Linked DNA regions of Homo sapiens: region 1 is linked to region 2. Evidence: fine-mapped expression QTL. A gene starts in region 2. The other region holds a variant in brackets. All regions are shown on one strand. Distances are between the middles of the regions. Region 1 overlaps CRADD (CARD and death domain containing adaptor protein). Region 2 holds the start of SOCS2 (suppressor of cytokine signaling 2).

Region 1 (2,906 bases), 170 kb before region 2:
GTTATGCCCGTAATAGAAAACGAATACAAGGGGTAAAGCAAAAAAGAACCAAAAATGAGCACATAAGAGTCTGTTAAACTCATTTATCTTTATTTAGTGATTTCAGCTAAAGCACAATAAATTACATAGAAACTAAAAATAAAATAGAAAACAAAACTACCATAACAGAGAACAGGATATAAGTGTGAAATAATCAAAGGAATTTTTAAAATAAAAAAAAATGTTGCTAACATAACATTTTATTGCATAATTTCAAGCACTACCTTGAAATTGGAAATTTTGCCATTGTTTCTAAACAATTCAAAAGAAGATGCATAAAGCAAGGATCTGGAGCCCAATATGTGATCATAGTTGCCCTGAATATAAGAAGAGAACACTCATCACGGTCTTCAAGCATGCACCACCCTCACTAAAATATATGAGTAAGAATAATTTTAGGCTTTTATTATTGAAGGGACAGTAAGAATAATTACACAGGGAATTCAGCTTACTATAAGGAATAATGTTCTATTCGAGACCAGCCTGGGCAACATGGCGAAACCAAATCTTTACTAAAAAATACAAAACTTAACCAGACGGTGACGAGGGCCTGTGGTCCCAGGTGCTGGGGAGGCTGAAGTGGGAGGATCGCTTAAGCCTAGGAGGTGGTGGTTGCAGTGAACTGAGTTGGACCCACTGCACTCCGGCCTGGATGACAGAGCAAGACCCTGTCTCAAACAAACAAACAAAAAGAAATAGCATCCTAGTAATTACGGCTCTCCAGCAATGGTATAGACTGCTTCGAAAAGCAGAAATGTTATAAAAAGATCCCTAGAATCCCATAGAAAAATTGGCCTAAAAAACCTCTATATTGTAACTCCAAAATTCTGATTCCATTAACTTAGTAACACAGGGAATACTGGCATTATCGGAGTACTAGTTAAGTTACTATTACTCTATACGCCACATTAATTCATTAAATTTAATATTAGGTATGCAGGACAATTGTCATAGCAACATAAATTATTAGCATTACAAGTTCCTAAACAGAAATATGCATAATACTAAAACGAAACTATTTTAAAGGGCAGACATTTATTTTTAATTCTGCAGGATTTCTTTTCAAAAGTGAACTTTGGTGTAGCCTCTGGTCTGGGGCGGAAGATGAGAATGGGAGGGCAGCCTGACCCCCCTCCTGATAAGGAAGGACCCAGCGCATAACCTGTTCAGGATCTGGAGCCGCACAAACACCTGACTCGCCCCTTCAAAACAAGATCCGCGGAATGGCTCGGGACACAACAAGAAATTGCCGGCAACCTGTGACGGCTCATTTTTACCGACAGTGGGAGGCGGGCAGTCGGAAGGAATGCCCATTTCTCCGGTGTTCCTTCCCAGAAGCAAAAGAACGTGTTTGTTTATGCAAGATTTACGTTTCACTCAGGTTTGGGTTGGGTTTGTTTCCTGGAGATGGAGCTGAGTTTCCCTGGTTTTGCTGGAGTGAGGACAAGCTGATCGCTCCGTATTTACCTTTCACTTGAGCCAAATTGGACAAATGCAAATAAACAGGTCTTGCAGGCGCCCCCCGGCAGTCGGCGCCGCCTCCCCGCGCTGGGCTGGGCAGCCGGGGCCCGCAGAGGCAGCCGGCGCCCTAGGGCGGCTGGGGCCGCGCGCCTCCCTGCCCCGCTGCGCGGCCCGCGGGTGCCCGGCCAAGCGCTGGCTTATCTGCAGCTCCCACAGCGCCCCCGCACTCACCAGTTCCTAGAGCAGGGATTCCGAGAAAAAAGAAAGAGCCGGGTTCCCTAGAAACATTAAATTAACACAAGGGATCTGGAAACAAAACAGCAGATGCCT[C/G]AAAGCCTTCTCCTTGACGGCTTCCTGCCTTCTTGGAAAATCTTTGCATTAAAATAGATTGAATTACCCTGCTCTGCCAGATGCTGCTCGGGAACTTCATTTTGGGCTAACATGAAAGGAGAGTTTGACATCTTTTAAAGGATTTTTCTTTTCGAGGTGGTTTGAGGGGCGCCTTTGGGTTGCTGACATTAGCAAGGACCCAAGGCTGAGCTTTTTGCATTACAGTCGAGAACTTTCCATAACAATGGCTAGCAAATCAGATAACAAAGATCATGGCGTGTAGAGGAGACGCGGTGGAGCATAGAATGAGCACTAAGGGTTCAGAAGCCGAGGTTGCTGTCTCTGGGAAGAGCCTAGAAAGAGCACAGGCCAGCCGCCTCCTTTTACAGGGGAGAAAATGTCTTTTATTTCTAAGCCTACTTATTTTGACCATAGCTATGAGAACTATCTAATGGCATTTCCAGAGAGTCACAAACAAGCAGAAAGGCTTGTGAGTAGTATTTTATCAGCCTCTTTGTTCTAAAGCCCATCGTCTAACCTCCACCGACCCCTATCTACAAATTAATCAGACCATATAATTTGTAAATTCAAACCCAGATTAATAACCACACACCTTGAACAGTGGGTCTTCAGCACAGAGTGTATTCCACTTTCCTGTCATGTTAACTTTCATATTTAAAGAATTTTGGTAGCTGAGAACAAGATCCAAAGCTTCCTATGAGGTATCAGGATTTTACAGAGTAAATTGTTTTTACTGGAGTAGGATCTTCTTTGACATTTTAACTTTTTTTCATGATAACCTTTAGGAAAGGACGCTATAATCCTTAGTCGCTAATTTATATGTGTCATGCTTTCTAGTAAACTGGAAAATAACCTACATTCTTAAAAGGATTCTATGCTTATCCCAAATTTAGGAGCACAAGATGGGGGAGAAGTATATTACAACAAGATACTCTAAACACAAATAAAATTAAATATCCTTGCCTAAGCATGAAAGCAATAAAACTCATCTTAAAGCAATGCAGTCAGACAAAATCATTGCATCTGTAATAAGGGTAAGTACACAACTCCGGGAG
Region 2 (2,826 bases):
GTACAATAGCTTCTGTTCGCTGCTTTATGACTACCTTACCAGTCACTAAGAAATGGGAATTCCCAAGTGATAATTACTACTTCAAGTTTACAATCTTCCCTAAACTCTTTTGAACTTTGCCCTAATCCAAACCCAATCACAACCATCCATCTCCCCTGCATTCTTGATTTCATCTGCCTGCACCATCTCCCCGGCCCACTCTGCTTTCTAAGAAGGCTCAGAGACCGTCCGTATTTAAGAAGTCTGAACATTTGTGCTCCCCCCACCCCCACAATTACCGGGATACTTGCAATCTGCCGGTGCCTCCCCGGGAGGGAAAGCCCGTGGCCCACACGGAAAGACCGGAATCGCAAGCGAGAGAACTTTTCCCTCTCCCTCCCCCTGTTGCTACCAAAATTTCAACTGTGCCACAACTGTAAGCTTTTAGGATACGGATTTGGAAAGCCAGAATGATTTGCCAGATACTTTACTTTTTTTCTTTTTTCTTTTTTCAGATGCCTAGAGACAGCGTGCCGCGCGAATTGCCTGACTGTACTTGAAAGCGGCAGTACCCTGGGCGCGCCGACCATGGAAGCCGCGCTCGGCGGGGGCTTCGCAGCCTACTCTCGACGCCCGGGCAGCCGCCCTCGCGGCAGTGTCAGTCCCTGAACTTGGCCGCCAAGATCCTGGGCTGCAGCCGCAGCTCCGCCCGGGAGCCAGATGCTGCTGGGCCTGCGGGGCCCGCGGCACCGACTTGCTGATTGCACCCCGTGCAAAGGGAGGCGCCCGACGCTTTCCCCGGCCGGGGTTCGAGCCCGGGAGCCTAACCCTGAGCAGCTGCGGAAAACAGTAAATCTTCCAGCGTGCTAAGAAGCTATTTCCAAGAAGCTCTTCCCGCGCTCTGCGCTCCGCCAGGCCTGAGTCCCTGGAGAACCACTTTCCTTACGCATTCCCAAGGACCCAGGACCCTGCGAGCGTGCTCTCCGCGGTCCCTTGGAAGCAAGGGACGTATTTCCATCTTATTCTTTGCTTCCCACCTCGACCCCGCTTCCTAGCTGCTTCCTTGGGGAGGCGCTCCCTCCCGCACGCGTCGCGGCCGATCGGCTCCCTACCTGTCTGACCGAGCTCCCGCAGGGCCTTCGCCAGACGCGCCGCCTGCGGGGATGGCTCCTCCGCCGACCCCGCGGTCCCCCACTGGCTCCGCGTCCCTTCCCCGCCATTCCCGGAGGGCTCAAGGCACCGCAGGGTCATGAGAGAAGGGTCACCGCGGCAAAGACAGGTGGCCGCCCGAGCTGGGGTCAGAGAAGGGTTCGCGTCCTTCCTTGAAGTCAGTGCGAATCCCAAAACGAGTCCCTGCGGGGTGTCCGAAATGGTGGCAGAGAGAGAAGGGATGGGGCTCTTTCTCCCCAGATCCTGGAGGACGGATGACAAAGTCCCTCGCAGCCGCGGTCACCCACTGATCGCCTACAAAGAGAAAGCGGGAGGTTGGGTCAGTCCAAACTGGACCCCTGCGGCTGGGGTGGGGGTGGGGAAATAGACGTGGAAAATCCCAGGGACTCCTCCGCCTCTACGTTCCTGCACCATTTAACCCCAAGCTTCCAGTTAGCGCCCTGGCCCAGCTCTAGAGAAAAGATAAAGAGAGCAGAGATCCAAGATAAAGTTGGCTGAAGAGGTGGGGGGCGGAGGTCAGGAGGAGGGTGAACAGGGTGTCTTCCCGCCCAGGGTCACTAGCTGAAATCAAAGACTGGCGACCTAGGAAGAGCAAATAGTCACCTGCAGATCCAGTGGGAATAGGCCCTTGTCAAGGACAAGTAGAAAAAATTAAAAAGGAAAGAACAGGAGAGATTCCCCAAATTGGCATTCCGGTCTCACACCTGGCGCAGCCCGAGGGCCCCCAGGAAGAAGCACCCACACAAACTTGGTTCTCCGCCCTAAAGCGCTGCGGGGCCCCGAGGCACCAACCCGGGGTGCGGAGGTGCGGGAGCTGCCGCATCTCCGCCCGGGAGGCTCCTCGCTCCCCTCCCCCCGCTTCCTGGTGCCCGCTCTGGCGGGGTTGGGGGTGCCGCGGCGGTCGCTCCCGGACCAGGATGGCTGCGGTGGTTCTCGCCGCCGCGGGCGCTGTCGAGGAATCGGCCCGAGCGCGCAGCCCTCGCGGGGCTCCGAGGCGAGGCCGGGGCCGAGCGGGCGGTCGCGAGCGCTGCGGAAAATGCAAACCACCAACGCCGCGCTCTTACCTCGACCTCGGCCGCGGCCGCCGCCGCCGCCTCCGCACCAGGCAGCCTCCTCAGCGGACATGGGGCGGGGGGGTGGGGGGAAAAGGGGAGGTGGGAGGGGCCCGGGAGAGGAGGGGCGTCTGCCCTTGTTTCCCCCGTTAACGTTTAATTTGGGAACGAGATGCCCGGGGATGCAACCAGCCCCGCGCTCGGAGGCGGCGGTCGGAGTTCCGTGCGCAGAGGGCACACAAAAGCCTCGAGGATCATTGCCTCGACCCCATCCCCCACCGCGCGGCGACGCCCCCTACGGGCTGGGACACCTCCACTCTCGGACTGCTGCCGGGTTTCCCTCCGGCTGCGACCCTGGAGGTGGGAAGGAGAGAGGGAGGGAGGGAGGAAGGAGCGAGGGCGGGAGGCAGGCCGGTGGGGAGGAGCGGGAGATCAGGTTATTAGGAGGATTATTAATTTGAATGGCAGTTTAGGGGAAATAAAAAAAAGAAACTCCAGACACTTCCAGACGCCGAGAAGGGGCTGGAGAAAGCAGGCAGCAACGCTAGGCCGCGGGGCAGAGCCGCGGTTCGGACTCTCTCTTCCCCGGCGCTCCGAGCTGCGGAAGCCCAGGCCGTCCGCCGCT

The links.
Region 1: its variant is fine-mapped to the expression of SOCS2 in whole blood (TOPMed, PIP above 0.99).

What each region holds. Positions count from the first base shown.
Region 1 is chr12:93,741,158-93,744,063 of GRCh38, reverse strand. All of the region lies in intron 2 of CRADD (CARD and death domain containing adaptor protein), which reads right to left. Among named protein-coding and RNA genes, the nearest start is that of CRADD-AS1, 4.8 kb to the right of the region's middle. RefSeq lists silencers at 1,457-1,546, 1,577-1,746 and enhancers at 833-1,789, 1,790-2,746. The variant C/G (reference allele first, on the strand shown) is at 1,831.
Region 2 is chr12:93,571,302-93,574,127 of GRCh38, reverse strand. SOCS2 (suppressor of cytokine signaling 2) reads right to left here and starts at 1,453. Exons shown (of 2, transcript NM_001270471.2): 1 at 1,092-1,453. The coding sequence starts at 1,230. It overlaps SOCS2-AS1 (SOCS2 antisense RNA 1), which reads left to right and starts at 2,730. Exons shown (of 4, transcript NR_038263.1): 1 at 2,730-2,826. RefSeq lists an enhancer at 650-789 and silencers at 2,007-2,316, 2,327-2,376, 2,737-2,826.